Linked DNA regions of Homo sapiens. The protein of the gene in region 4 interacts with the protein of the main gene of each other region in a pairwise test. Each region holds a gene or a part of one and is shown on either strand. Other genes may lie near its edges. The genes, in order: C8orf48, BAHD1, ZNF415 and CARD10.

The links.
Region 1: the proteins of CARD10 (region 4) and C8orf48 interact in binary tests that used the Homo sapiens proteins (3 or more experiments, as listed by UniProt).
Region 2: the proteins of CARD10 (region 4) and BAHD1 interact in binary tests that used the Homo sapiens proteins (3 or more experiments, as listed by UniProt).
Region 3: the proteins of CARD10 (region 4) and ZNF415 interact in binary tests that used the Homo sapiens proteins (3 or more experiments, as listed by UniProt).

Annotation. Positions count from the first base shown.
Region 1 is NC_000008.11:13,562,156-13,569,250, forward strand, and holds C8orf48 (uncharacterized protein C8orf48), read left to right. Parts: upstream 1-4,713; 5' UTR 4,714-4,836; coding exon 4,837-5,796; 3' UTR 5,797-6,133; downstream 6,134-7,095.
Region 2 is NC_000015.10:40,457,135-40,465,162, reverse strand, and holds part of BAHD1 (bromo adjacent homology domain-containing 1 protein), read right to left. Parts: intron 6,713-8,028; coding exon of another isoform or gene 6,699-6,712; coding exon 5,267-6,698; intron 3,252-5,266; coding exon 2,869-3,251; intron 1,303-2,868; coding exon 1,143-1,302; intron 693-1,142; coding exon 616-692; intron 1-615.
Region 3 is NC_000019.10:53,115,300-53,123,327, forward strand, and holds part of ZNF415 (zinc finger protein 415), read right to left. Parts: intron 7,445-8,028; coding exon of another isoform or gene 7,378-7,444; coding exon 7,363-7,377; intron 7,318-7,362; exon of another isoform or gene 7,120-7,317; coding exon of another isoform or gene 7,105-7,119; intron 1,135-7,104; coding exon 1,014-1,134; intron 626-1,013; coding exon of another isoform or gene 582-625; exon of another isoform or gene 557-581; coding exon of another isoform or gene 405-556; intron 34-404; coding exon of another isoform or gene 1-33. UniProt on the Homo sapiens protein: Involved in transcriptional regulation. Transcriptional activity differed among the various isoforms. All isoforms except isoform 3 seem to suppresses the transcriptional activities of AP-1 and p53/TP53.
Region 4 is NC_000022.11:37,502,136-37,510,163, forward strand, and holds part of CARD10 (caspase recruitment domain-containing protein 10), read right to left. Parts: intron 6,548-8,028; coding exon 6,392-6,547; intron 5,820-6,391; coding exon 5,694-5,819; intron 4,249-5,693; coding exon 4,057-4,248; intron 2,635-4,056; coding exon 2,500-2,634; intron 2,167-2,499; coding exon 2,051-2,166; intron 1,079-2,050; coding exon 1,050-1,078; intron 591-1,049; coding exon 467-590; intron 1-466. UniProt on the Homo sapiens protein: Scaffold protein that plays an important role in mediating the activation of NF-kappa-B via BCL10 or EGFR.

The DNA.
Region 1 (7,095 bases), on a different chromosome or scaffold from region 4:
AAAAAATAACTAACAAAATAAAATAAAAACTAGTGTAAACAATCCAAGGGCAAGTAGGAAAAAGATTGATACATTTGATATATGAGAGAAAAATCAAACTTTTACATGGCAAAACACAGCATAGACAAATAGACAAACTGAGAAGAGCTATTTGGAACCAAGTCACAGACAAATAAATAATATTTCCAACATATGAAGTGACTCTTGAGAATTGAAAAGAAAAAAACAAAATTTATATAAAAATAGGTAAAAGAATATATGGTACACATAAAAAGAAAAAGAAATGTAAGTGGCCTTTATGCACATGAAATGGTGTTCATTCTTACTGCTAATAAGAAGAATTCAATTTAAAATTACGCTGAGATATCATTTCTTATCCTTTAGATTGGCAAGAATCCATACATTTGAGAACATACCCTGCTGGCCAGGCTTTTGGGAACAGATGCTCCCATACATTGCTGGCAGAAATGTCATATGTGTACTGCCTGTGGAGGGGGATTTGGAAGTAAGTAGAAAACTACATATGTCTTCATCTTTGATATAGTAATCTCATTCCTAAAATTCATCTTGAAAATATATCTCCACAGATACAAAGCAAATTTTGATTTCTTATAATAGCAAAATGCCCGTCAAAATGTGTGAATAAAATACATTACATTTCTACAATGAAATACTATGCAATCTTAGAAATAAATGAGAATGATGTCTATATGCTGTTGTAAAGTGGTATCTAGAATATATTTTTAAGAAAAAAACAAAAAAAAAACGCCATAAAGCAATGTGTAGAGTATGTCAATGTGTTTTTATAACAAGAGAGGAACACATGTATGAGAGACGTATTTATATTTTCAAAACATTTTTGAAAGATAATCGAAAACTCTAAAATTATGATTATCTATAGGGAACGTAATGGCAAGAACAGAGAAGAAAACTAAACTTCTCTTCCTGCTCCTTTTTACTTTTTCATTTATAAAAATTATTTGTACTTCGGAAGTGTTAGGAAGTAAAACCTTTGAGGACTACGTTAGCCAAATGCAGTCAGTGGACCTTGTTTGGATCCTGATTCTAACACTTCAACTTGCAAAAAGGCATTCTTGAGGCAGTCAGATAAATTTGAACACAGAATAATTATTAGATGATATTAAGGATTTATCGTCACTTGCTAGATGTGGTCACAATGTGGCTGTTTTTAAAAAGGCCTAACTTGTAAGAGATATAAAACAAAGTATTTATGGACAAAAGAACATTATATCCTAGAAAAAATGATGTACAGAAACTATAAATTAAAATAATTTTTAAAAAATCATGAGTGATGTAAGATTCTTTCCTCCAGAAAGAATCAGCTCCTCACAGCGAGATTCCTGGCATCTTTAACTTAGTCTCTTAGGAGAAGAGACTTGCTTGATTCACAGAACCTTGCACAGTGACACTTGCAGAATTGGTGTAAAGGGTAGAATATTTTTGAAGGATCTGTCAATTTAATCTATAGAGGAGAAACAGATCTCAAAAGCATTAAAAATGTGCATACATTTTGACCCACGAATTATGATTTCTGGAATTTATCCTAAACATATAGCTAGAAATGTATGTAAAGATTTAGCTAAAGGAATAATTTTTCATAGCAAAAAAACTAGAAATACCTTGCATCTGAATGTATTTGTTAAACGAATCAAATAATGCAAAACCACCTTTAAAATTATGTTGAAAATAATTTTTACAATGAATGGAAAGGTTCATTTTATTACTAACTGGAAAAAATTGTTCATAAAACCAAAATTCAGTATAATCTAGATTTTAATTAAGAAATTCAAGAAAAATATTACAACACTTTATCAATGTTTATAGTAATTATCTTTGGGAAGTCAGAATATAGGTAGCTTTTGCTTAAAATCAGTATTTGTGGCTTATCATTTTCTTTTTTAAAAATCTGCAGTAAACCTATATTATTACTTTTGCAAAAAAATAGCTATTAAAGTAGAAGGCAGCTATTCACAAGGCAATTAATCAATTTCAGAAAAAAGATAATAACACCAAAGATGCAGAAAACAGAATAGAAAGATGGAGATAATTGTGAGGTAAAAACATTTTACAGATAAAGAACAAGTACTGAACCACAAAAAAATTGAACAACTATAAATAAAATCATTTTTCATCTTGAGTGATATACGATTCTTTCCTTCACAAAAATGGCCATTACAGTGAGATTCTTGTCACATTCAACTTAGCCCCCTAGGAGAACAGCTAAACATTTCATCTTGCTGCATCTACAGAACCAAGCACAGCGTTACTTGAGAAGTTGATGTAAAGGGTAGAATATTTTTGAAGGCTCTGTCATCGTAGTCTCTCTTATACTTAAACTAGACTCCCACTTTGTACACTGCACACCACCAGGAAGAGGTACCTGCCAAATGCCAACTCATCATGGAAACGTTTATGATATCTGGGGGGAGAATTGCTTGCCAGAGTGACAGATGCTGAAAGTTTGCTTTTCTCCCTCCATAGGAAAGGAAAGCAAGAGAGAAGGGGAATCATGAATTTGTTTTGACTTCCTCTTTCTGGGGTTGGCCTTATAGCTGCAAAGCATTCTTGATCATTAAGGAAAAAGCTGGGAGAAGACCCTTGGCCCTGCTCTCTGATAGGAACTAGGAAGAAGAGAAAGTAGCTGCAGAACAGTAACAGGAGGGGCATAGCAAGGTTAGGCCAAGAGAGCCTGACTGGACTCTCTTTTCTATTCTTCATATCTCCCAATCCCCACCACAAGCAGCCTTCAGCCACAGCTTGGTCCACAAAGCATTTTGACATTCCCAACAGCCCCTGAGAGATGGCAAGAAGATTGAGATTTCCAAAGGAAAACTATTACTCTTCATATTTGTTTAAAATCAAACTTTGACCTGTGTTTTCATGAATCTTATTTGATAAATATAGTACTGTTGAGAAATTTTCTTCCTTAGATAACACACTTACTAGAATGTAAAACTGTCCACTGGGTCACGCTGAATATTACAAGGAAATTAATTATAGAATTTCCCACCCACATATATCTCCTTCTAGGATAAAGTTATTTTTAAAAATCAAGAGAAATTTAAGACACGATTATAAAAAAGACAGATTACCCCAGACATTTGGCATGTTAGAAGACACAGATAGATTTTATTTTAAGTATAGCTCCCTTGTTCAATGTTATGGATAAGATATAGCTAAAACATGAATAGTGTGTAAATATGAATGTGTAAATATTCAGAGAATGAGGCAGAGATTTGAAATAATAAATAAGGAAAATATTGAGCCCTATTGGAAATTACTTGGAGTTACTCACAAATTACATGCCACCTCTTTTTTAAAGACTACCATTATATGATAAAATAAAATTTGGGTTGAATAAATGAAGTTGGAGTCTCCTTATCTTCAACAGGAAGCTGGCTCATATACTTGAGAGATGCTTTTTGAATATTTGACTTTCACTTTTTGCCAGAATGAACATTTGGGGAATATATCTGGCTAGACCTGAATAATACCCCCCAATCCCCAAGAAACACAGGAAGAAAGAGAGAGAGAGACAAAACTGAGAAAGAAGGGTGTCTAGGCTCTTAAAATTATCCTAGACATTGACTAAGTCCTAGACTCAAGAACTATTATAACCTAGGAAAAGTCCATCTCTAGAGTTAACATTTTATAATTTCTCACGATAATTAATAAAACTCTACTGTGTTTTTTAAATGAATCCATTAATAAAAAATATATCCTGTGTAATAGCCTAAGTTTGGGGATTCAGTTAGAAAAAAGGTTAGAGTTCCCTGAACTTATAGTACTTATTTCTCCAAATCCTCTGGACGTGTGTAAGGTAAGATTTATTTGTTCCATAGCCATTCACTCAACAGAGATTTCTTGAACACCTGCTATGTGTCTGCTGATTGCTGGGCTCATACTAGTCGGCAACACCGACATGATTTCTGCCTTCAGCCTTCATAATCAGATACTCATACAATCACATAGTTGGACACTATTTAAAAAAAAATGCTGGAAAGAGTTTAAGGCAGGGGTGGGTATTAAGCCCTTCCTGAGGAAATGGGACTCGGAGGAGGAGGATAAATTAACGATATTAAGAGTGAGGACGGGCGTGGATATGCTAGCCAGAGGGGACCTGTATGGACAAAAGGCCAGAGAAACTGATTTGGAAAATTAAGGTCCTCCCCCGCCCCTGCTCCCCACCCCCGACCCCGCCCAAACTTCGAGGTCCTCAGAATGCTGGAGCACAGAACACTACTTCTTACAGAATGGTTTCTGTATTTTGACTTTTCCCCAAAGACATGCTCTACAAGGAGGTGTCTCTTGGCTATAAACACTGCAGACAAGTTTTTGCTTGTGCATCTTGTCCAGCGCGTTTTGCTTGATTTTTAAATCTAGATGCATTTAGGCGGGCGTACACGTTCGGATTTGTCACAGGCCACCTAACTCTATTGGTCTCACACACGTGTGCCACCTGTCTGACCCCTGGGAAACAGAGTTTGCAAGGTTTTCCCGTTGACTACTCGACTTTAGCACCAAAGAGAAGCAGGAGTGCAGAAGACAGGGCAAAATCGCCAACCCGGCGCAAGCAGCGCAAGCGCAGTGGGCGCTGGGGAGCGCGGAGGAAAAGGCGGGACGCCGCATGGTGGCCAGTCACTGCGCATGAGCGGCCCGCGTTGCCAAGACAGCTGGGAAGGCGTCTCCCGGAAGACGACCTCCGCAGAGCTGATGGCATTGAGATCCATTCCCGGAGGGGTCAGCTCCTGACGGGTTCCTGAGCCAGTCTTAACCTGGGCAAAGGAGATGAGGAGCCGAGCCTGATGCATTGTGATGGCCATCTGCCCAGAATTGGCCCAAACGGACAAAAGTGCTCTTGCAAACCTTTCTGATGAGACTGAGACTTTGAAGAACTCTACTGATGAGGTACAGACTTCCAGCTCATTCAGCTCCTCTGGAGGACGGCAGTCCTCGCCCCTGACCTCTGGGAGCAAACTGGAGAGGGAAAAGCAGACTCCAAGCTTGGAACAAGGAGACACACAATCTGAGCTTTTGGACTATAAAAATTATGAAAAGAAGTTGAGTAAAAAATGGATCAACTACCTCAAGCTCAAAGACTCTAACTTTGAACGGCACCAACCAGACACCAAACTTCCAACAGAAATCACTCGGGTATCAGATGAAGAATTGAATGCCCTGCAGTCTTATTGCACCATGAAGATAAATTTGATTCATCGTAGAGGGGATTCTAAGAAGAAGACGAGCAGCAGACATAAAAAGCTGCATCTTGGATTGGATGTAGAGGCTTCAGAGAGAGATGCCTTTAGTTGTACTGTACCCGATGAACTTTTGAACAGAATCTACTTTAAAAACATGAGGACAACGCCAAAACAGGAGGCAGCAGCTAAGCAACACATATCTTATCAGTGTCCCTATTGTAACAGGAAAAGAGCGGAGCTGGCCCTGTCTGCCTTTCTGAAACAAAAGAAGACTTTACTGGAGTCATTTCTACTCCAAGAGAGAATAGATGAACATCTTCATACCAAAGACTTTCTCACCCGTATTGGAGAAGCACATCAAGACTTTCCCAGGCTTTCAGATGACCCCAGAATAATCTGGAAAAGACTGACTGAGAAAAGTCATATCAGATACTCTGGTTTTGAAAGATCAGAGACAGAGCAGAAGTTGCAGCGAGATGGAAATAGTGCTTGTCATTTACCATTTTCTCTGCCATTTCTCAAGCGACTTACTCTAATCAAACCAGAGCTGGTGATTGTTAATGATAATGTGTAATGTGGATAGATGTCTTTGTTGTGTATTTGAGTAATTACCATAATTTCTACAGGCACTTGGGAAACTAACTTAAGACTTTACTATGCTTCCTTCACAGATTTGAGGACTAAGAACTTTCACTTTTTTTTTCCTATTATAGAAGGCACTGTTGTAGTTGGAATAGTTATAAAAACTTTTACAAAATTCCAAGAGAACTATGTTGGTAGTTTGGGCCAGGATGTTGATGGTACAGAAGCAAAGTAGTATGGGGATGTAAGAGAAACTTAAAAAGTAATAACTGTCTTTGGCGATCAAATGGCTATGGGGAATTAATAAATAGTAGATGTTTGAAATGTTATTAAGGCTCTGACTTGTGCGCCCGGATGAATGATCATTAATTTCATTAAGACAGGAACACCAGAAGAGGACTATGTTTGATGGAACTGTTGAAGAGTATGATTATTTGGACATATAAGGTGCATTTGGGACATACACATTGACAGTTTGAAGAAACATTTGATTATTTGTTTTTGCGCTTCAGAGGAAAGGTATAGCCTAGAGGTGCAAAATAAATTGGGGTAGGACTGGGGGAAGGGTGGGGATCAATGGCATATAGCTGGAAGTTGAAGCCGTAGATTGTCAAGCGTTTTTGGAAATGAATAAGAAGAGAAGCAGGGTTGATACAAACTCTTGAGAAATGCCAATTAATGGCTAAGTAGAGAAAAATAAACCTGCAGAAAAGATTGTGAAAAAAGTTATCAAGTGGATCAAGGAAATCAGGAATGTATAGTGTCATAGATGCTAAGGAATGAATATTTAAAGAAGGATAGTTGTCTAACCACATCAATCAACAGAGAAGCCATGTAAAGATGATTTAGTCATGTATTGGGCACTGCTGACCTTAGCAAAAGCCATTTCACTTATACAAATGGGGCAGACAAAATAGATTGAGGAAAAATGTAAGTAAATAATGAATGGATATAGGGTACTCCTTGAAATATTTAGCTGTAAGGGGAAGAAGAAGTAAAGCTGGGGTTAGGTGTTGAGTTTTGAGAGAAGAACGCTTAAACAAATTATCTAGATAGCCATTTTGGTCGTGAAGATTTTATGAACCTTCTGTTGTTCATCCAAATTTATGTAATGAGGAAACAGTATTATTCCACAAGGAATACCATGGCATTTTGAAAACACATTTATGGAGAAAAATGTTAGATGGCATTCTGAGAAGCCATTTATTATCTATTTCCTCTATAAAAATATAAAACCATGGAATTAGTGGCATTACCTGGAGATCACTTTTCTACATGTCCAACACCTGAA
Region 2 (8,028 bases), on a different chromosome or scaffold from region 4:
AGTCCCTTCTAGGTCCCCCCCTTCTCCAGAATAGCCAGGTATCTGCTCTAGCCCCTGATTGTCACTGACCTCCCAAACCCCAGCCCTGCCTAGCGTAGGAGAGGGGAAATGTTCTTCATCTTTCCAGTTAGATGGAAAGTCCCTGCAAGGGAAAGTGAAATAAAAGGTGAGCCCAGGGCACACACAGATGGCAGTCACCTCTTTTAGCACACAGCTTGGTGGAGAGCCTATGGGGTGTTAGGAGGAGTCTTTCCTCCCCTCCCCTCCCCTACTACAGAAAATACCAAAAGTGACCAGGTATGCAGCTCCACCTCACCTTTCCTGTTTCCAGGGGAACACATCCACTTGCTCCCATTGGCACCTGCTACCTCAAGGGTTCCCTTTCTGTTCCTCTTTTTAAGACAAAGGTTATTATTCCCTTTGAAACATGAATTGGGGCAGTGTTGGGAAAAGAGAATAAATCCTGGGCCCTTTCCCAGGTTCTCTGGAGTCCAAAGTGACAAGCGCAGGGATTTGACTACAGCCCATGGCTGCCCTCCCCCTACCACGTCTTAGTGCCATAACCTTTCCCTCTGTCTCTCCTGCCCTCCCTGACCCATCTGCCAGGCAGCTCACCTCGTGCATGCTGGGACTGCGGCCTCCCTGTAAGTGCTCAGGTCTGTAATACCACAGGAGGCTCATCATCAGCTCTCCTGGAAGGACAACACAGTGGTTATGGCTTGAACTGGCAACCTGAGTTACTTAGACAGGCAGAGAGGCTGGCTGGCTGCCCTGGAGGTTCATCCAACCTCAATCCTGCAGGCTCCGGCAACCCATGTCCCCTGCCCCAGGCCAAGCATTCAGAGGCCTGGAATGCTGTTAGGCATGGAGGGAGAAGGGGGAGAAGGCACTGACAGGTGAGGTGGGGGGACAGGTGCCCAGGCTCTGCTGGCTGGAAAGGTTAATGAGCTGATCCAACCCAAGCCACAAGGTCACCCACAGCCCTCGGCAGCAGAGAGACCCCAGCCGAGTGGAAGGCAGACTCTGTGCCAGGAACACGGGGAGACTCACGCCAGGTCAAACTCCAGGCAGGGGCCAATCTGGGGACTACAGTTCTGCTGAAGGCAGCTGCCCCTTGGGTCCCCAGCCAGAGGGAGAGGTACCTGACTCGGGGTTCTCCCAGAGGGCAGAGATCTTGGCCACATAAGGTGTGGAGGTCTTTCGTGGGCCTGATTTGAGAAGGACGGTGTCCCGGACTCGGATTGTCTCCCCATGCCGCTCTACCGCCTGGTAGCTCTTTCGGATGGCTGGCTCCGGCTCATCCTAGGCAACAAACCAATGACACAAATAGGCTTGCAGAGCCACACTCAGAGTAAGGACAGAGAGAGGGAATGACATCCTTTCCACGATTTCCTCAAGATAGTCAAACCACTACCTTGGTTTTGTCAAACCACTATCCTTTTTTGGATGGGGCTGGGGAATTCTCATGGTTGGAGAAAGGATGAGAAAAGGGAATAGGGGTGGAAAAGTGGCCTGAAGCTTCTGGGGCTGAGCTCTGACCACCATACCCGACAGCTGACTCTCACTCCAAGACCCCCAGTGCTGGGTAAGTGCTCATGCTTCCTAATGGAACAAGTCTCGGTCTGAACCCTTAAACCACTGTTATAAGGGGCACAGCCTTTGACAAATTATTTAAAGTATTGCTAAGCCTCAGCTTCCACATCTGTAAAATGGGATTAATTATAGGAAGATGGGATATATACCACATAGGGTAGTGGTGAGGATTAAAGGGCATAATACTTACAAAATGCTTAGCTCAGTTCTGGCATCTAAGAAGTGCTCAATAAATTTTATGTATTTATGTATTTATTTATTTTTAGAGACAGGGTCTCACTCTGTCACCCAGGCTGGAATGCAGTGGTGCAACCATAGTTCACTGCAGCCTCAACCTCCTGGACTCAAGTGATCCTCCTGCCTCAGACTCTCAAGTAGCTGGGACTACAGATGCATGCTACCATGCCTGGCTAATTAAAAAAATTTTTTTTCTGTAGACAGGATCTTGCTATGTCGACCAGGTTGGTCTTGAACTCCTGAGCTCAAACAATCCTCTAGCATCAGCCTCTGAAAGCTCTGGGATTATATGCATGAGCCACCTTGCCCAGCCTCAATAAATTTTAGTTAATATTCTTTTTGTTTTTAATTAATTAATTTTAAAAGCCAGGGTCTCTCTGTCACCCAGACTGGAGTGCAGTGGTGCAATCAGCTCACTGCAGCCTTGAACTCCTGGACCTAAGCAATCCTCCCACTTCAGCCTCCTGGTGCACACCACCATGCCTGGCTAACTAATGTTTTTACTTTGTAGAGATGAGGTCTATATTGCTCAGGCTCGTCTTGAACTCCTGGCCTCATGCGATCTTACCACTTCCACCACCTAAAGTACTGGGATTACAGATGTGAGCCACCGCACTTGGCCTCTTTTCATCATCCGAGATGTTCTCTGTGTCACTAATTTTCTCTGCCCATTCCAACGCCCCCTATATAGACTTATCCAGAAAAGTTCTCCATTGAAAGTCCTCCACTTTACAATCCAGGGTGTAAGGGACAAAGTGAGCAGGGAGGGGAGGGGAAGACACTCACCGAGATGGCAGCCACCAGCTATGACTGTGTGTCTCCTGACCTCCCTGGGGTGTCTGGTACAGGATCAGTAGGGGGCTAGGGAAGCAAGCTGGGTGGGCCAGCATGACTGGTTCCTGGGGTACAAGTAAACTGGAGTCCCTTGTCAGCTCTCAGAGTAGCTAGAACCAGGTGCTTCTAGCACCTACCTCACTGCAGGTCATGTGTCCCCACTGCCTCCCTCCCTCTCGTCATCAGCTAAGAGCTAGCACTTACCAAGACATACACAGCCTTCTCACACGCAGCCCCAACAGGTACCCAGCCATTAGTGCGGCGGCGACGGCGGCGGCGAGGGCGTGGGCGCTGGACACGTGGCTGCTTGGGGTGGCTAGGCCTGCGGGCAGCCTTGCTCCTTGCAGTGTGCCTGCAGCTGGAGCCTGTGCGCAGACCTGACTTAGAACCGCTGGGAGGTTTGGCGCTCTGAGGGCACGCACGGGCTACTGTCTGGGGCTCCGAGGTGGGTGTCTGAAGATGGGGGACGGGCTCTGCTGCAGGTGGCACACTGGGTACAGGGCACCCCAGGAGTGGGTGGGCGGGTGAGGCTGGGTGGCCAGCTTCCGGGAGAGGAAATTCCAACTGGCCCAGGGATCTGCAGCCTTCTAGGAAAGGGAGAGAGTGGTCAGGACAGGACAAGCAGTGACCCCCATCACCCATCTGCTTTCAGAGCCTGCTCCTGTCTTAATTCTAACTGTGCAACCAAAGGCCACTGAGGTGGCCGATGGGATCAGAGGCCTTTTTATGGTGGACTGTCAGAGTGACTCTCTAAGGGGACAGGGGTGTTTCCTGATCTTGGAGATTGGCCATCTCCCCTTTTAGTCTGAAAGAGAGGTGGTTGGAACATCCTTTTTAACTCCGAACTTTTTTTTTTTTTGAGACAGAGTCTCGCTCTGTTGCCCAGGCTAGAGTGCAGTGGTGCTATCTTGGCTCACTGCAACCTCCGCCTCTCGGGTTCAAGCATTTCTCCTGCCTCAGCCTCCTGAGTAGCTGGGATTACAGGTGCCCATCACCACACCCAGCTAATTTTTTTGTATGTTTAGTAGAGATAGGGTTTCACCATGTTAGACAGGCTGGTCTCAACCTACTGAGCTCAGGCAATCTGCCCGCCTCAGCCTCCCAAAGTGCTAGGATTACAGGCATGAGCCACCGCGCCTGGCCCTGATATTAATTTTCTAAGGCTTTCATAATGCTTGGGAATAGGGGTTCTAGAATCAGCCTGGGTTCTGCCACTTACTAGCCATGTGACTTCAGGCAAGTCACTCTGCCCCTCAGAGCAACTGGCTGGTTTTCTTACGAACACATTAACTCATTTCATCCTTACAAAAACCCTGTGAGATAGGTATCATTACACCCATTTTATAGTTAAGAAAACTGAGACACAGAGCAGTTACTGACTCGCCCATAGTCACATGGCTAGGAAAGTGGGGGAGAACATTTCACTCCAGGCAGTCTGGCTTCGGAGTCTGTGCTCAATTACATGCCAAGCAGCCTCCCATATGTAAAGCACTCAGAACAGTGCCTGGTACATGGTGTTTACTGGTGTCCTTATTATTAGGGAGAGGGGATAAGGGTCTAGACTTGGGGAATGGCACAAAAAAAGAAGGAAAACCCCAAGCAGCAGCCTGTTCTCATGTCATAAGAACTCTAACTCAAGCCACAACCTGAAACAACCAGTCTGGCCAGGGCCAACTGGTCTATAAAGTTGTTTTATAGACCCCTACAAGAAAGGATGTCAGGGGAAGGGAGATCTGGAAGGTCCAGCCCTCACCTCCCCAGCAGCAGGGCAGACCTGCTGGCCAGCATGTCTCATTTCCACCCAGGAGGCAGGCAGGGAGCCTGAAGAGGCAGGTGAGGATACCTCTGCCAGTTTAGGGAAGAGAAATGATTCTGGGAGTGTCTCAACAGCCGGAGCATGGGCCTCTCAGGTGTCTGGGTCTTGTCAGGCAGGCAGACACCAAAGCTGTGGGCCCTGATCGCATTCCATCCATGTCAGGGAACTCTGCTTGTCTGTTCTCATGGTGCACCCTCTCTATCCACACCCAGCAAAGTGATGCTCAGTCTGGGCACTTCTCTTTCAATGCCTCTATAGCCAGGGCAAAGCTGCCCTGTGCAGTAGGTACCACCTACTGAGCCTGGTACCTACCACCTTTCCCATGAATGCTGAACTTGGCCAGCATGCAGAGAGTACTGGTTTCTAGAAACTAGGGAATTCTAGCTTTCCTCAAGGAGGGTAGAAGGGCCGTGAGAACAATTTGGTAAAAGTCCTAATTCCAATATCTAACCTGCTCTTCAGAGTCTAAGAACGGGTATCCCAATGAGGAGAGAAGAGAGGCCTTCCTGTGGCCTGTACCACTGCAATGCTACCTAACTGCCAGGCCAAGAATCTCCAAAGGTAGCCTGGGCAGAGCAAGGCTGTCCAGAGCTATACGGGCCCTGTTCTTGGGAATGCTCCTCGGCTTGGGGCACAGACTACGGGAGTTCTCACTTCTGAAAGCCCCCTACCTTCCAGTTAGCAGCCAGACCCCAAGGGAGACCCCTGCTCAGATCAACAGCCCAACCTCCTGGGATGCCATGTCTCCGAGACTCCCCAGTACATCTTGGGCCCAGGAAGCCTCACCTGCTGCAAAAGGCATTTTGTATGGGCAGCCGCCACAGGTAGTGCCAGCGTGGGTAACAGACAGGGGCAACACTCCGCAGATGCTGTAGCCATTCACTCCAGTGTCCTCGCTAGAGCAGTAGCGAGAGGAGCCCCAGGGAGGGTGCTGGAAAGGGGTGCCTGAGGGCACTGAGCTCGGAGCTAAGAGGAGCCCCTCCTCGTGAGGTGCAGCCACTGGGGACAGCTTGCCCTCAGGAAGCATGGGGCAGGGCGAGTAGCCCCCACACTGCAGCCCCTCTTGGCCACAGTACAGGTAGAAGCTGCCTAGTGCAGTGAGCTCAGGCCCAACACACAGGCCATTGTAGTCGGCGGGGTTGCCAGGCATCGGCAGCGGCGACAGCTGAGGTGTGGGGAAAGAGGGCTGATGCAGTTCCTGCTTAGGGGCAGGTGACTCCTCGCCTGGGCGCCCAGGCTCCGGCTTCAGAGCCGCCTGTCCACCCATCAGCAGGGGCAGGTGAGGGCGCAGCCCCAAAGGGCTCTCCAGAGCCTTGCTCAGGGGCTGATGAGATGGCTGGACGGATGGCCCACAAGGAGTTGCAGATGGCCATGGTTCATCAGGGCAGCCTTGCCAGCCAGGTGGGCCTGCAGCCTCCCCAGAGCTGGCCCCCTGCCAAGCCTTGGGATAGTTCTTGCCATTGACCTTGGGCCACTTTGGCCTCGGGGCCTTGGGTGCTGGGGGCTCAGTGGAGCGCCCATCTACTTCTGCATGGGCACGAGGCAGCCGCAGGGGTAGCTCCCGCTCCTGGCTCAGTTTTAGGAAAGCAGCTGCGTTCAGGCTAGCCAGTCTCTTGGGAGCTGGGTCTCCATCTCGGCGGGGACCTTCATCGGGTGCTGGCTCTGGAGACAGGTCCCGACTTCCTCCTCCAAGGTCCCCCAGCCGGGGCCGCTTCTTGGAGGAGGACCAGCCCCCAGTAGCACGATCACGGTCACGGCTGCGGTGGGGATCCCCTGCTCGACTGCGGCGGGTGCCTGCCAGGCTGCTGGTGTCCTCTCGCTCCAGCAGCAGGTTATTGAGAGCTTCAGCATTGAGGGAGGCCAGGCGCCGCTTGCGGGGCTGGGCAAGGCCAGGGTCTTCACTGGATGGGGCCGGGCTGGGGGGCTTGGGCAGGTCAGGCGGTAGCTCATCAGCCTCATCTGCACTCCGGGGACCGGCCACATTCTCCAGGCGAGTCAGCAGCACTTTGCAGGCCTTGGGCTTCTCAGGAACCAATGGGCGCTTACGAAGTGGGTAATTCTTGCGGCGCCCTGTGAGGTGACCTGGGCTCTCGGGCATGCCTGGCTCCACACCCTCAACCCCCTGCTCCATGTTGCTGTCTTCCATCTGCAGGGGCTCTCGGCGGCCAGTGAGGCCCGAACTCAGCATGGGAAGGGACTTTCTCCGAGTGTGTGTCATGGAGTACTTCCAACCTGCAGGACAGAAGGTGGGCAATGAGAGAAGCCCTCTCTGGCCTGCTCCTGCCTGCTTTCTCTCCCACTGCAGCCTACCCAGCCCCAGGTGCAGTGATCCTGGCCTACAACTACCCTGTCTCCAGTATGGATTTTCCTGGGACTCCCTTTCCAGAGTGTGAAGGGGCAGTGGAATCAAGCTACCAGCAGCTGTGCAAGGACTGGTTCCTCCTCTTTCCTTTTAGCCTAGGGTATCTCTGAACTAAGCCCCTGAAGAGCCTAGGGAGCAAGGCAGACCCCAGGGACAGGGGATAGGAGGAGCTGGTGGCAAAGCTCTTTGTTCTCTCCCCCTGTCCTTCTCTCACTAGATATTCATCACAGGATAGGAAGAGGCTCTGAAGACAGAGCCTCCCAAGATGGGGGACTGGGTGGTAGAAGTCCATTTATTCTTTCTTCTTTTTTTCTTTTTTTGAGAGACGGAGTCTCGCTGGAGTGCATTGGTGAGATCTTGGCTCACTGCAAGCTCCGCCTCCCAGGTTCACGCCATTCTCCTGCCTCAGCCTCTCGGGTAGCTGGGACTACAGGTGCCCGCCACCACGCCCCGCTAAATTTTCTTTTGTATTTTTAGTAGAGAGGGGGTTTCACCGTGTTAGCCAGGGTGGTCTCGATCTCCTGACCTCGTGATCTGCCCGCCTCGGCCTCCCACAGTGCTGGGATTACAGGCGTGAGCCACTGCCCCCGGCCAGGAGTCCATCTATTCTTCCAAAAGTATAACCAAGGCATTAACAATCCCCTCCCCAAACGCAGGGCTTCTGAGGTTGGCCACAGGAGGACAAGAAGACAGACAGTGAAGAGCTGAGATGGGGACCCTGCCTGCTGGGCCATGAAGGCAAAGTTCAGTCTCTGAGGACTCCTCCCCTGGCATATAAAGCAAGACTGCCACAACCTGGGTCTAGCTGGAAAAGCTCTATCAAGGGTGAAGGCCTGGCTTTGAGGGGCCCATGGTGGAGAGGTCTCAGCTTTGAGGGGCCCATGGTGGAGAGGTCTCAGCTTTGAGGGGCCCATGGTGGAGAAGTCTCATTTGAACTTTGGTTCAAATTCCAGGCAAGAGCAGCCCAAAGGGTGCCAGTACCCAGGGCAAGGGTAACAGTAAGGCCAGGATCAGCATATTCCTGGGGGTAGAGAAAACCCAGGGACGGTGCGTAGACCTGCCATACAGCTTTAAACCCCTGAAGGCCACAAACAGTTGGGAAAAGAAAGTATCAAAGAGAAGCACTAACACAGGAGACAAATGAGCTGCCTTGTTAGTCGTGCTCGGTTCTCCCTCTTTGTAGGCA
Region 3 (8,028 bases), on a different chromosome or scaffold from region 4:
ACTCCAGCCTGGGCAATAAGAGCGAAACTCCATCTCAAAAAAAAAAGAACAACAGCAACAAATAACAGGAGAGACCACGGGAGAAGTAGACCCTTGTGATGTGGCCCCTCCCGGACCCCTCAGAGTGAAGGAGCCAGAGAGTTCACGGAAGTCAGAGGGCAATGCTGTCCATCATGATGAGCACTTCCATTTGTCTCTGTTTGAGCTGCAGCCCCCACTGGACAGCAAAAGGATCAACTATGACACGTCTCAAGAGCAGAGGGAGAAGTAGGGGAAGTTTAAAATTTCCTCTAAGAGCTCACAGGATATAAACATTTGTTTTCCTACAGAACTCTCCCACTTGCTAAGAGTTTCCAAACATAGTGTAATGGTGTGGCTTCCTCTCCCCTCATCTGAGGTCTTACCTGTTTTCACACCTTTGATCCATTCCCACCCTTTTGGTTTTCTTGCTACTCGTACTTGGCTTTCTATGGTCCAGGGCTCTTTCCTGTGCTCCCACATAGGATAATACTCTGGTCAGGAAGAGAATTTCCCGCTTATAAAATGAATGGAACATGATGTGCTGTGGCTTTTCAAGAATCTCAGCCCTTTGCTTGGATAAGAAGAGAGGCTATCACAGATGGATCTAGGAAAATATTTCACAAATTATTTCACTGAATGCCAACTCTGAATGCTTAGGGAAGACTGTAATATGCAAATATCTAGCTCCCTTCCAAGAACTACTGAATCAAAGCACAGGGGCAGAAAACAAGAAGTGAGTATTTCAGAAGTCTACCATAAGCTTTCATGGATACTTCAGCTCTGGAACCACCACTGTTGTATCATGAAGGGGTCAGAAAATCTGGAAAAAGGGGATGGTTAAACTCCAGAGTTCACATTATGGAGCTTTTCATTTCAGAGTCAACAAGGCCTCAAACTCAGTCAGGTAATGCAGGGGCTCCCAAGAGGCACACAAGGGAAAATGGAAAGATACCAAGGGCAGATTTTGACTTCTGGAAGAAAATTATCCTCACCCAGGGAGACCAGGTTCCTGTAGTTCTCCAACATCACATCCCTGTATAAAGTCCTCTGTGTAGAGTTCAGGCATTTCCACTCATCTTGAGAGAATTCGATGGCCACGTCCCTGAATGTCAACTGTCCGTAAAATAATAAACACATTTCACCAAGAGGTTATGAAGGGAGTTACCATCTTCACACAAAATAAGAATAAAAGAGAATTTAAGTATAGATTTAATTGAAGTGTGTGTTCTGATAAATCCACACTAAGGTATTTTTGAGTACATATCTCTCCCTAATTGTGGTTTTTTTTCTCTCTTTTTTTTTTTTTTTGGTTTGAGACAAGGTCTCGCTCTGCTGCCCAGGCTGAAGTGCAGTGGCATGATCATGGCTCACTGCAGACTCAATCTCCCAGGTTCAAGTGACCCTCCAACCTTAGCTTTCCAAGTAGCTGGACTATAGGCATGTGTGTACAAAGTACATTTGAAAACTTCAACAATGAACTAGGGATCAAGCAAAAGAAAAAATTTCAGAACTTGAAGACAGGTCTTTTGAAATAAACGAGTCAGACAAAAATAAAGAAAGAAATAAAAAAGAATGAACACAGCCTATGTGACATATGGGGCAGGCACCATAAGGTGACCAAATATTTGAATTTTTGGTGTCCCAGAAGGTGGAGAGAAAATCAAAAAAGATAGAAAGCTATTTAACAAAATAATAACCAAAAACTTCCTAAGTATAGTAAAAGGTTTAGATATCTAGATACAGGAATTTCATAGATTCTCAAAGAGATACAATCCAAAAATGTCTTCTTGGCACATTATAGTCAAACTGTCAAAAGTCAAAGAAAAAGAAAGAGAATTCGGCTGGGCGTGGTGGCTCACGCCTGTAATCCCAGCACTTTGGGAGGCCAAGGTGGGCAGATCACCTGAGGTTGGGAGGTCGAGACCAGTCTGACCAACATGGAGAAACCCCATCTCTACTAAAAATACAAAACTAGCCGAGCGTGGTGGTGCATGCCTGTAATCCCAGCTACTCGGGAGGCTGAGGCAGGAGAATTGCTTGAATCTGGGAGGTGGAGGTTGCGGTGAGCCGAGATCACACCATTGCACTTCAGCCTGGGCAACAAGGGCGAAATTCCGTCTCAAAAAAAAAAAAGAAAGAAAGAGAATTCTAAAAAAAAACAGCAAGAGAAAAGCATCTAGTCACTTATAAAGGGTGCTCCATAAAACAGGAAATTTCTCAATAGAAACCTTACAGGCCAACAGAGAATGGTATGATACATTAAATGTGCTGAAAGAAAAAAAAACCCTGCCAGCCAAGGATACTATACTCAGCAAAATTATCCTTCATAAAAAGGAGAAATAGTCTTTCCCAGAGAAGCAAAGCCTGAGGGAATTCTTCACCACTAGACTGGCCCTACAAGAAATGCTTAAGGGATCCCTACATCTAGAAGCAAAAGGACAATATTGGCCGTCATGAAAACACACAATACTATAAAACCCACTGTTAGAGCAAACATGCAAGTAAGGAAAGGAGTCAAATGTAAATGTTACTATTATAGAAAACCACCAAACCACAATGAAAAACAATTAGAGAAAGGAGCAAACATACAAAACAACCAGAAATCAATTAATAAAGTGACAGTAATAAGCCCTCGCATATCAATAATGAACTTTATGTAAATGGATTAAACTTTCCACATAAAAGATATAGACTGGCTAAATTGATACAAGCGTGTAACCCAACTATATGCTACCTTTAAGAAACTCATGTCAATGTAAAGACACAAATAGACTCAAAGTGAAAATATGAAAAAAGGTATTATATGCAAATGAAACCAAAAGCAAGCAGAAGTACCTCTACTTCAATCTAACAAAATGAATTTTAAGTTAAAAACAGTAAAAGAGATGAAAAAGGTCATTATATACTAATAAAGAGATCAATTCAATAAGAGGAATATAACAATTCTAAACATATATGCACCCAACACTGGAGCATCCAGACATATAGGGCGAATATTATTAGATTTAAAGGGAGAGACACAATCCAAAAATAATAATAGTTAGGGATTTCAGCATTAGACAGCTGATTTAGACAGAAAATTAACAAAGAAACACTGAATTTAAACTGCACTTTAGACTAAACAGATCTAAGAGATATTTACAGAACATTTCATCCAACAAGTACAGAATACACATTCTTTGCATCAGCGCATAGAACATTCTCCAAGACAGACTACATATTAGAACACAAAACAAGTCTCAACACATTTTTAAAATATCAAAATCTTAGTATCTTCTTAGAACAACAATGGAATAAAATTAGAAATCAATACCATGAGAAACTTTGAAAACTGGCAAATACATGGAAATTAGACAACATGCTCCTAAATGACCACTGGGTCTAGGAAGAAATTAAGGGGGAAATTAAAAAAAAAAAATCTTGAAACAAGTAAAAATGGAAACACAATATGTCAAAACCTATGGAATACAACAAAAGCAATGCTAAGAGGGAAGTTTATAGTAATAAACACCTACTTGGAAAAAGTAGAAAAATTTCAAATAAGCCAGGCACGGTGGCTCACTCCTGTAATCCCAGCACTTTGGGAGGCCAAGGTGGGTGGATCACCTGAGGTCAGGAGTTCAAGACCACCCTGGCGAAGATGGTAAAACCCCATCTCTACTAAAAATACAAAAATTAGGCCGGGCGCAGTGGCTCACGCCTGTAGTCCTAGCACTTTAGGAGGCCAAGGCGGGCGGATCACGAGGTCAGGAGATCAAGACCATCCTGGCTAACATGGTGAACCCCGCTTCTACTAAAAAAATACAAAAAAATTAGCTGGGTGTGGTGGTGGGCGCCTGTAGTCCCAGCTACTCGGGAGGCTGAGGCAGGAGAATGGCATGAACCCAGGAGGCGGAGCTTGCAGTGAGCCCAGACCGAGCCACTGCACTCCAGCCTGGGCGACAGAGGGAGACTTCGTCTCAAAAAAAAAGAAAATACAAAAATTAGCCAGGTATGTGCCTGTAATCCCAGCTACTCTGGAGGCCGAGATGGGAGAATCGCTTGAACCAGGGAGGTGGAGGTTGCAGTGAGCCAAGATTGCACCACTGCACTCCAGCCTGGGTGACAGAGCAAGACTCCATCTCAAAAAAAAAAAAAAAAAAAAAAAAAATTTAAATAGACAGTCTAACAATGCACCTCAAGGAACTAAGAAAGCAAGAACAAATCAAACCCAAAATTAGTAGAAAGAAAAAAATAACAAAGATCAGAGCAGAACTAAACAAAATAAATACTACAAAAACACAAAGGATCAACAAAATGAAATGTTGGTTATTTTTAAAAAAGATAATATAATCTATAAACTACTAGCTAGATTAATCAAAAAGAAGACCCAATAAACAAAATCAGAAATAAAATGGATACGTTACAACTGATAACACAGAAATATAAAAGATCATCAGAGACTATTATAAATAACTACACACTAACAAACTAGAAAACCTAGAGGAAATGGATAAAATCCTGGACACGAAGCACCAAGACTGAATCAGGAAGATTCAGAAAACCTTAACAGACCAATAATGAAATTTAATCAGGAATAAAAAGTCTCTGAACAAAGAAAAGTCTGGGACCAAATGGCTTCACTGCCGAATTCTATCAAACTTTCAAAGAAGAACTAAGACTGATTCTCCTCAAACTAAAATTGAAACGGAGGGAATTCTCCTTAACTCATTCTATGAAGCCAGCATTCCCGATATCAAACCAGAAAAGAAAAAAAAAAGGAAAACTATAGGCCGAAATCCCTCCTGAACACAGATGTAAAAATCCTCATCAAAATACTAGCAAATTGAATATTTTGCTATATTCCCAACACATAAAAATGATAAATACTCAAGGTAATAGACACTTCAAATACCATTACTTGATCATTACACATTCTATGACACACGTAACAAAATATCACATCTGCCCCTTAAATATGAACCAATATTATGTATCAACTTGAAAAAGGAGCAAGCTATCCTTGTTCCTTAATACGAAAACGTGTAAATATTCACAACTTGCAGGATAGAATACCCTAACAAAACATTTACTGACAATATTGTTCTAAAATCTCACAATGATTAAACACATTTCAACAGGGCTTGAGCTGTCTGTTCTCACAGAACTGACAATAGTGGCTCACCACTGAGACCTGTGTGAGGGTGTAAGGCTTGACAGGAAAAGGGATACTCTATATCTAAGCACTAAATATCTCTATTGAGAGTTTCACCATAAAACAAATATATACATCATGTGATGTTTAAAATAAAAGCAGCATAATACTTAATAACAATACATATAATAAGAATATGGATATATCCTCTTTAATGAAAAAGGAGTTCTGCTCTGATGTCTGAGCAAAACTGTTACCATTTTTACCTAAAATATCTGATGCCTAAGAGACCCTGCAGGAATAGCACCATCTCCGTGGTATGCAAGTGCTGAGAATGGTTTAAAAACTTGGCTGGGCGCGGTGGCTCATGCCTCTAATCCCAGCACTTTGGGAGGCCGAGGTGGATGGATCACGAGGTCAGGAGTTGGAGACCAGCCTGACCTACACGGTGAAACCCCGTCTCTACTAAAAATACAAAAATTAGCCAGGTGTGGTGGCGCGTGCCTGTAATCCCAGCTAGTCAGGAGGCTGAGGCAGGAGAATTGCTTGAACCTGGGAGGCAGAGGTTGCAGTAAGCTGAGATCGCGCCACTGCACTCCAGCCTGGGTGACAGAGGAAGACTCAAAAAAAAAAAAAAAAAAAAAAAAAGTCCTACAGCTGGCCGGGCACAGTGGCTCCCGCCCGTAATCCCAGCACTTTGGGAGGCCGAGGCAGGCAGATCATATGGTCAGGAGTTCAAGACCAGCCTGGCCAACATAGTGAAACCCCATCTCTACAAAAATTAGCCAGGCATAGTGGCGGGTGCCTGTAGTCTCAGCTACCTGGGAGGCTGAGGCAGAGGAATCACTTGAACCTGGGAGGTGGAGGTTGCAGTGAGCCAAGATCGAGCCACTGCACTCCAGCATGGGCGACAGACTGAGACTCCGTCTCAAAAAAAAAAAAAAAAAGTCCTACAATTATACTTTATTTTTGTCGTTGTTGTTGTTGACACAGAGTCTCGCCCTGTCACCCAGGCTGGAGTGCAGTGCAGTGGTGCGATCTCCACTTACTGTAACCTTTGCCTCCCAGGTTCAAGTGATTCTCCTACCTCAGCCTCCTGAGTAGTTGGGATTACAGGCGTGCGCCACCACGCCTGGCTAATTTTTGTATTTTTAGTAAAGACGGGGTTTCACCATGTTTGCTGGTCTCAAACTCCTGACCTACAATGATCCGCTCACCTCGGCCTCCAAAGTGCTGGGATTATAGGCCTGAGCCACCGTGCTCGGCCTTACAGTTACACTTTTATGTTGACTTTATGTTTCAAAGTCAATAAAGGAATAAAACGCCCTCTAGTACTGATGTCTGTATCTCAACTTTACATTCCATTCCAAGTCATTAACAGTGTGGAGTCAGAGACATACTGATATACTAGTTTTATCTGGATTACAAAATCAGGCACAAAATATATCCCCTTATTGGCTGCCTTTTCCAGGATTTACCAGGTATTTGTCTATATTAACACCTGACTTTAGGCCAGGCACGGTGTCTCATGCCTGTAATCCCAGCACTTTGGGAAGCCGAGGTGGGTGGATCACCTGAGGTCTGGAGTTCGAGACCAGCCTGACCAACATAGAGAAACCCCGTCTCTATTAAAAATACAAAATTAGCTGGTTGTGGTGGTGCATGCCTGTAATCCCAGCTACTCGGGACGCTGAGGCAGGAGAATCACTTGAACCCGGGAGGCAGAGGATTCAGTGAGCCGAGATTGCGCCATTGCACTCCAGCCTGGGCAACAAGAATGAAACTCCATCTCAAAAACAAACAAACAAACAAAAAACAAAAACAACAAAAAACATGACTTCCATGGGCAGCTTCTCTATTCCTGGGCTACGGAGAGCCGACAGTGCATCCAAATGTGGCCCCTGAACAATCCCTGCTGCCCAACAGCACTGACACCACGGGACCCTCACCCCGTCTCCATCCATGTCTGGGTGTGAGCCCTTCCCAGGACCATGCCCAGTGGACTCTTCAGAAGTTCATGTCACAGGGTCAGGGTGAGACGGAATCTCAGTAGAGATGAGAAGGACTGAGGGAAGGCACGGGTCAATGTGAGCAAACGCGTCAGGCAGGATGCTTCAGACTCAGAGAAGATTTGCAGCTCCAAGGCATTGTCTCCCACCTTTCTGAAAAGAGGGAGACAGAATGATCCACACAGAATCTTTCTTTACCTGAGTAAAAGCCATTCCTGACTCCTTTGCTCTCCTCTTCTGGGTTTCTTCCTCATGTGCCAGGAGTCTTTGGAAGTCAATGCTGAATAACAACAACAAGTGCTGTTTATTGCTTAGAAACAACACACCCCCTCTTGTGTGACAAGCACACACATACACAGGGAGGAGCTCGCCCTGTGCAAAGACGGTCCTCTGCCGCCCACTACACCAGGGTGGCCCCAGGGACAAGAAACTCCTACAGGAAAACCAATACATGAGTCTTCTGACCCCTTTCTTCAGAACTCCCTCCCCTCCTGGAGAAGCTCACACACATGCTGCAGCAGTGGGGAGGAGACCCAGCCCTGATTAAACCCCATGCAGAGCACAGCCCCCTTTCCCTCTCTGGATCCCAGGCTGGGCTCAGCCCTCAGAAATAGAGGACACAGAGCCTTGGTGTTCAGGGCTGGATATAGATTAGAATCATGTTGGGCACTGTATTATCGAGGGTGGGTCCCAACCTGTGTGAATGGGAATCTCTGGGACAGGGATGGGGGCACAAGAGGTATATCTGCAAAGTACCCCAGCACTTTCATATGAAGCCAGGGGGTAGCTCTACTCACATGTGGTCAGCCCAGCATAGCCCCCACCTTCTGACTCTATTCTCCCCTTGAGACCTTGGTGTCATCA
Region 4 (8,028 bases):
CCCGGTCACAGGGGCTCCTGAGGTGACCCAAGCCCACCCACAGCATGAAACTTTGCTGGGTGGCTCAGTCCCAGGGACTCAGAGCCAAGGGACTGACAGGCAGGACATTGGGACGAGGACAGCTTGTAAGTGACAACTATTACTAAGCACCTGCTACATGCCTGGCAGAGCTGGGTGCTTTGCTTCTGCGAGCAGAGCCCTCAAAAGACCTCCATGCAAAAAGGGTCATCATCTCCCTTTAGCTACTGAGGAAATGGAGGCCCAGAGAAGTGAAGGGACCAGCCCAAGTCACAGGGACGATCAAGAGCGGCAGCAGGATTGGAATCCAAGGGCTGCCAGTGTCTACAGATCTTAATCTTCCAATAGTTGCATAAAACAGGGGCGAGGCAATTGCTCCTCCCACCTCACTCCTGTTCCCCTCTCAAGCAATCACCCCAGCTCCACCCACTGCAGGCAGCTACAGTACCTGTTGAGGAAGTCCAGGCCACAGCCCCGAGCCAGGAGGCCTTCCGGCTTTCCCAAAGGCCACACGCTGTCAGAGGATGAGGACGAAGAGAGGCCAGGGGACCAGGGCTTAAGTGTCACACTCCCTGGGGAAAAAGAATGAGGTTCAGGGATCTGGCACTGGGAAACAGGGATGGCCAGGGTCCATGACAGGGACTGACCCCCCTCCAGCCCAGAGAGGCCTTGGCAGGTTTGAGGCCCCAGGAGCACATCAGACCCACTGGGCTCAGAGATAGGTCAGGGCCCACCAGGCTGACCCCGCAGTTTCCCAGAAGAGGGTGAAAGGTGGCCCAGAACTGAAGAGCCTCGTACATCACAGCCGGGAACAGGAGTGAGGCCCAGGACTGGGCTCGGGGTGAGAGGCTGGAACCAAAGTCCCCAGGGTCCTCCCAAGCACAACCTTCCTGCCTGGCAGGGGCCACGGCGGGGCTTCAGGGAAGGGGATGCAGGCCAAAGGTAGCGCAGGTGGTGCAGGCTTCAGGTGGGCTGCAAAGCCACCTCCCCCGACCAGAGGAGCCCTCCCCACGGAACTCAAGGGCTGTTACCTGTGATGTCTGACATGCTGCTGAAGGATCTGGGCAGAGAGAGGGCAGGGAGGGGGCAGGAGGTGAGGCACAGTGGGCACTCTGCCCCGCTCCCTCCTCCTGCCCCCACACCAGATAAATGTCTCACAGCCCCCAAGCAAATGCAGGCTAGACTCAAGGCAGGGTCCCAGGTACAGGGCACCCATGCCACCTGGCTCCCCTAAACTCCCAGGGTAAGAAGTTAATGTCCTGGCCTCTGTCCAATGTTGTTCCACCTACAATGCCCTGGCATGCCCTTCAAAGCCAGCTCTTTCAATGCCACCTCCTCCTGGAAGCCACCCCTGATCTCTCACCCCTCACCTCACCCTCACTTGCCACCTTTGTGGTTTGTGACTCCCAGGTACGCCTCCTAAATTAAACCATGACCTCCTCATCAGACACCTCCTTGGGACAGATTTACGCAGATCAAGGCCATACTGACCACAGCCTCCCAGGGCCCAGCCTCTCACCAGTAAAGGAATAAATCAAGGGCTGCTTACAGGGGAAAAGCAGTGACAAGGATCGCGCCCCAGGAGGCAGGCTATCTCCCGCCCTTGGTCTTGCCACCAGAGGGTGCGCCTTGGTTTTTCTGGTCCCTATTTGCTGCTGATGCCCAAACCTGGGGCCTGGCTTTCTTGCCGGAGGTCCCTGATACCTTGAAACATTCTCCACGCCCCCTAGTCCTGAACCATCAAGCTTCTCCTTGGGTATAGGATCTTCAAGGCTTGACCCCCAGTGACCCTCCTGCCAGGATGCTTGGCTAGGACTGAGTTCGCTCTGCCCATCGGCCTTATCTTAAGCCTGACCTTGGTCGCCCCTGTGACTCACAGGACCTGGGTTTCCAGAGCTCCAGCCATCTGAGGGCAATAAAGGGAAGTGACTGCCTGGACCTGACTTTGGCATTGCAGATTCTGGGAGGTGGCTGTTCGGGAAACGGCAGCCCCACCTCCCTGGGTGTCTACTGCTATCCCCAGCCATCTCACCTCTTAGGGGGTGCGGGGTCTTCCTCACGCTGCCGGCGGAGGATGGAGCCGGCACTGGGGGGGAAGGGCAGGATGGAGAGCCGATTGATCTCCTTTTCACTGTCTGTGGCTTCCTCCTGCAATGCCATGACAGGGCCTGGGTCACCCCCACTGCCCAGCACCATCCCAGTCCTCAGCACACCTGGTTTGTGCCCATTCCACAAATGAGAAGTAGGGCCCAGAGCAGAAGAGCGGGCTCTGCAAGATTATAGTGTGCGGGTGGCTCCCCACGCCTCCTGGCACCTATGCCTGGCAAGGAAATGGTTCTGGGTGAGCTTCAGTAAAGTACTTGGCCTCCCTGCGCCTCAGTGTCCTCACCTGTGAAATGGATCCTTCAGAAAGCACTCTCCACATTAGTAATAATGCTATAGCAGTGTCCCCCCTTATTTGGGATGGGGCAGTTGTCTTACCGAGTTGTGAGGCTCAGGTCCCCCCATGACAGCTGCCTCCCCAGTTGCTTCTGGGCCTCCCAGAGGGGAGGGGAACTCGCTCAGGCTCCAAGTGCTGCTGAGGTTGGAGCACAGGGAATGGGAGGAGGCACAGGCCTGGAAGAGGGAGAGGAGAGGAAGGAGGTGAGCAGTGCTAGGCCCACGTCAACCACAGTCCTTTACTGAGCACCTGCCATGTGCCAGCACAGGGACAGATCCCTGTCCTCAGGGAGCTCACAGCCTAGAATGGGAGATAAACTGTAAACCAGCAGACATGTGAACAAAATAGCCCCAAGCTGAGACAATAGCAGAAGGAAGGTGCCCAGGGCATGGAAAACACACAAAGACCCCACCCAGCCTGGGAGTCCAAGTACTCTCCAAAGAAACTGTGGTTTGAACTGAGAACTCAAGGGTATAGAGGCGCTAAGTAGGTCAAGCTGGGATGGTCCAGGCAGATCAACAGCATGTGCAAAGGCCCTGAGGCAGGACTGTGATGCATTCCAGTTGAAAGACTGGAACCCACAGAACCAGGCGAGAGGACAAGAGGAACCCCACCCGCAGGGCCTCTTGGCCATGAAAAGGGACTCTGTCTTTACCAAACAGCAAAAAAGCCACTGGGGGTTAAAAAAAAAAAAAAGTCTTGGATTAATGCTGACTTTTCCTATATTCCTCCAGGCCCCAGTGCTTCAAACACCAGGCCTGCGGAGCTCACTGTCAGGCAACTCAAAATAAGAAAACGCAGGCTGGGCGTTCGCACCTCTAATCCCAGCACTTTGGGAGGCTGAGGCAGGAGGATCCCTTGAGGTCAGGAGTTTGAAACCAGCCTGGCCAACATGGTGAAACCCCCATCCCTACTGAAAATACAAAAAAAAACTTAGCTGGGTATGGTGGCAGGCACCTGTAGTCCCAGCTACTAGGGAGGCTAAGGCACGAGAATAACTTGAACCTGGGATCCAGCCTGGGTGATACAGCAAGATTCTGTCTCAAAAAAAAAAAAAAAAGGAAAAAGCAGAGCTCCCGGCAGCAGCCTGAGGACCACGATCCAATTTACAGTGGGTCTGGGACTCCAGCTCCAGTGCTAGCTGGCTGTGTGGCCTTGGGCAAGCCCCTCACCCTCTCTGGGCCCTGTGCGATGAGAGGATTAGACCAGCTGGTCTCTGAGGGATGCTTAGGCCCATGTTAGTCCTGACTAGCTGGTCTCTGAGGCCCAGGTTTTGCATTCTAACATGCACACAGGCACTCAGGCAGCCAGCCTTCCCCAGTTAAATGCAAAGACCAGCTCCAAACTATTCTTAGTGTCCCAGAAGCAACCCCAGAAACTCAGAGACCAACATGCCCCTCCGCCTGCTCACCAGCCCACACCCAGCCCAGCCTGGGTTCAAGTTCCCGCCCCTAACTGAGGACTCTTCCCACTTCCCCCAAGCTTCCTCCCCTGGCTGAGGTCTCCCACCAGGGCCGGCACGTTCCCAGCCCTGGCCAAGAGCTCCTGCCAGGACCCCAGCCTTCCTGCCAGGACCTCCACAATCTTGACCCGCTCACCTTGAGGCAGGTGCCACCCTGGGCCCGCTGCAGCTGAACCTCCAGCAGAGCCTTGGTGCCCTCCAGGCTGGTGAGCGTTGTCAGCAGCTCATCCCGCTCCGCCTCCAGGCCCCGCACCTGCTTGCGGTACTGGTCCTTCTCGATGAGGCTCTGTGAGTACTGCAACTGGATCCGGTCACGGCTCTGGATGGCCTAGGGTTGGGGGAGGGGAGGCAGCAGCTGAAGGAGCCACCTTGGCCCAGCTTTCCTGGCCTATGACTTGGAGAATGGGGACAGTAAGGAGAATGGCAGCTATCACTTACTGAGCACTGTGTGCCGGGCCCTGAGCTAAATTATCAGCTCATTTAAATATCTTCACACTAACTGGCTAAGTTAGATACTATTAATATCATTATTCTCATTCTGCAGACTGGGGAAACCAAGCCAGGAGCGACAGAGCTGGGATTCAAATCGGGCAGTCCATCTGCAGAATCCAGGCTCTCACCATTTCACCAAGAACTGAAAACTTTTCCACGAGACCTGCTGTGTGCCAGGGGCTTCACTCCCAGCATCCCAGTCAGTGGAGAAGCCAGGAGTCAAACCCAGCCCACTGCATCCACAGTGAAGACCAGGGGCTCCAGAGCTGGGCCCATGGTCCAGACCTGTCACCCATGCCTCAGAGAGAGCCGGGGGCAGCCCCATAAAATGCAGATTCCTGGGGCCCACCCCAGACCACCTGAATCAGAACGTCCAGAGAATGAAGCCCCAAATTTGCACTTTCAAGCTTGCCAGGGGATTCTGAGGGCATTTCTAATATGCAGACTTCGGCTGGGCATGGGAGCTCATGCCTTTGATCCCAGCACTTTGGGAGGCTGAGGCAGGTGGATCAGTTGAGCCCAGGAGTTCAAGACCAGCCTGGTCAATATAGTGAAACCCTGTCTCTACTAAAGATACAAAAATTAGCCAGGAATGGTGGCATGCCTGTAATACCAGCTACTTGGGAGGCTGAGGCAGGAGAATCACTTGAATCTGGGAGGCCTCAGTGAGCTGAGATTGCACCACTGCACTCCAACCTGGGCAACAGAGCTAGATTCAGTCTCAAAAAGTAATAACAACAATAATATACAGACTTCAACTCCTCTAGTGGGATTCACACCTGGTTAAGGACAAAAACCTCCTGCCCTTCCCCGCTGCAGATGGAACCTCACACAAGGAGGCTCGGGGGCCTGGTGGCACTGGCCGGAGGTCCTCAGCCCACCCCACAACCTTGGCAGGAGACAAGGGTCATAGTGCCCAGGGACTGAAAGCCAAAACTTTTGAGAATTTCTTCATCGGCTTCTATTTGTAAGCACTCCCTCTGTGCTGGCCTTGTCTTTGAGATGGACAGAACAAGGGATTCAAAAATGAAGACACCAGGACCAGCTTCTGTAACTGCCACAGGAGCTCAGATGAGGCCAGTGGGTCCAGGGTGTAAGGCTGGTATCTCAAGGGCTCCAGGTCTCCTGTCTGGTTCCCCCAGCCTTTGTGCCCCGTCCTAACCCAACAGGGAGCGGCTAACGTCTCTTTCTACCATTCTAGTCCCCTCCATTGCTCCTTGTCTCCTCCCATATGGGAAGCAGCAACTGGCCCAGGGCCTCGTACACGCAGGCTGGGCTCACCTGGTCTCGCTCCTTCTCAATCTCCTCCAGTTGGGCCAGGACAGTGGCCATGCGGTGCTTGTACAGGTCACAGTCCTTCTGCAGCGTGCGGTGCTTGAGCCGCAGGTCTTCCATCTCCTGCAGGTACTGAGGGTGGCACGGGGCGGGGTCAGACCACAGGGCTGGGGACCATGAGAAAGCTAACCAGCAGGTGCCCAGGAGGGCCAGTGAGAGACGCTCACCAACAGTCTGAGACCCAATAACAAGTCCCCTCCTGCCCAGTGGAGTGGTCTGAGCCACTGACTTTACCTCACAGGCCCTCAACTGCCTAATCTGTAAAACGAGAAGAATGATCATCATTTCACCCATCCGGCCACCCTTGGCCTCCCCACTCAAACTGCAACCGGCCCCTTCCCCAGCTCTGCATCTCCCACGGTGCTCATCGCCTTTGACTACATGAAATAGCTGACGTGGGACTGTGTATCTCACATACTGCCAGTCTCCCCTGCTGGAGTTCCCCCTCAAGGAAAAGGCACCTTTGTTTTGCTCACTGCGGCATCTCAAGCGCCTAGAAGGGTGCCTCCGTCAACATCTGAGAACAAATGAATGCAGTTCTCAGCGCGGCGCCTGCGTCAAGCAGATGCTCAGGGAAGGCGTGAGCACACAGGCCCTGCCTGACACCCTCCCGCACAAGGGGCAGGGCACGGGCAGGGCCCCACCTGGTCGCGCAGCTCCTCGGCCCACTGCAGCTCCCCCTGCACGGCATGCAGCTTCTGGCACAGCTCCTGCCTGCTGTCCTGCGCCTCCCGCCAGTCATGCTCTAGGATGTCCAGCAGGATGCGCTCGGAGCCCGGGGCCCCCGGCCGGCTCGCCTCCTGGGGATCACAGGGCAGGGCCACCTCAGGGTCTGGCTAGGGGCCCACCCTGGGTGTGGGAAGGAAGGGGACACGCAGCTCTCAGCCCTCCAAACCCACCTGACCAGCTCTGCCATGCTGGCCCGGGGCCTCGACCCTCTCTGGATCTCTGTCTCCCCATCGGCAGAGTGGGTGTGGCCCCACAAGCCCTACCCACCCTCCAGGGAGTATCTGGGGTACAAGTAAGCTAATAAGCTAAGTGGAGAAGGGTGTGACTGGACAAGTTCACCCAGGATTATTCCTAAACAAGCACCAGGCACACACTCGTGCTCTGGCCCTCACCCACCATCCAGGGCAGCAGACGGAGGCCATTCCCAAGACCTACTCCCACCCCCATGACTAGGGGTCTTCAAGGGGCTGAGCCTGGCCCATACAGGTAGACCCTGGGCCCAAGATCTTGCCCCCAGACCCACACCCCAGCCAAGTGCCCCAACCCCATGAAACACACTGGCTCTCATCCCCCACTTCCTGTGTGGAACAATGGCCAGGAGGCAGGCCCATGCAGCTGCTGACCTGCCACTGACCTGCCGCAGGACACTAAGCAAGCCCTAGGGCCCCCAGGCCACACCCTCTACAAATCAAATTAAAGCTGGGGCCCTTTCCCCAGAAAAATGCTCACACTCAAAATCAGGGGGGCAGTTTTAGGGAGTTTGAGGACCTTCTGGAGGCTGCTCACACACCCTAGACCAGACAACCAGGGACAGCCACGTGCTAAGGGCCCTCAGCTCAGAGCTTCAGGCAAGAGGCTACCGGGACTCCATCCAGATCTCAGATCCCTGGTTCTGAAATCCTCAGCTTCCCAGGCCTTGGGAGGATAAGCAAACAGCAAGAGGGCCTGTTTTCCGGGTCTGACCCCCACCCCCACTCCATGTCCACGAGCCCTGGCCCTAGTACCTGCTGCAGGCCCTCCTGACCTCCCCGCAGCCTGTGCCCATGAACGCTGGCCCTGGTACCTGCTGCAGGCCCTCCTGACCCCCCCTCAACCCCCATGGCCACGAGGCCCAGCCCTGGTACCTGCTGCAGGTCCTTCTGACCTCCCCCGACCCCCATGCCCATGGGCCCCAGCCCTGGTACCTGCTGCAGGCCCTCCTGACCTCCTGCCAGCCTGTGCCCACAAGCCCCAGCCCTGGTACCTACCGCAGGCCCTCCTGACCACCCCCCACCCCCGTGCCCATGGGCCCCAGCCCTGGTACCTGCTGCAGGCCCTCCTGACCTCCTGCCAGCCTGTGCCCACAAGCCCCAGCCCTGGTACCTACCGCAGGCCCTCCTGACCACCCCCCACCCCCGTGCCCATGGGCCCCAGCCCTGGTACCTGCTGCAGGCCCTCCTGAGCCCCGCTACCCAGCCTGTGCCCAGAAGCCCTGGCCCTGCTACCTGCTGCAGGCCTTCCTGATCCCCCACCCCGCAGCCTGTGCCCACAAGCCCCAGTACCTGCTGCAGGC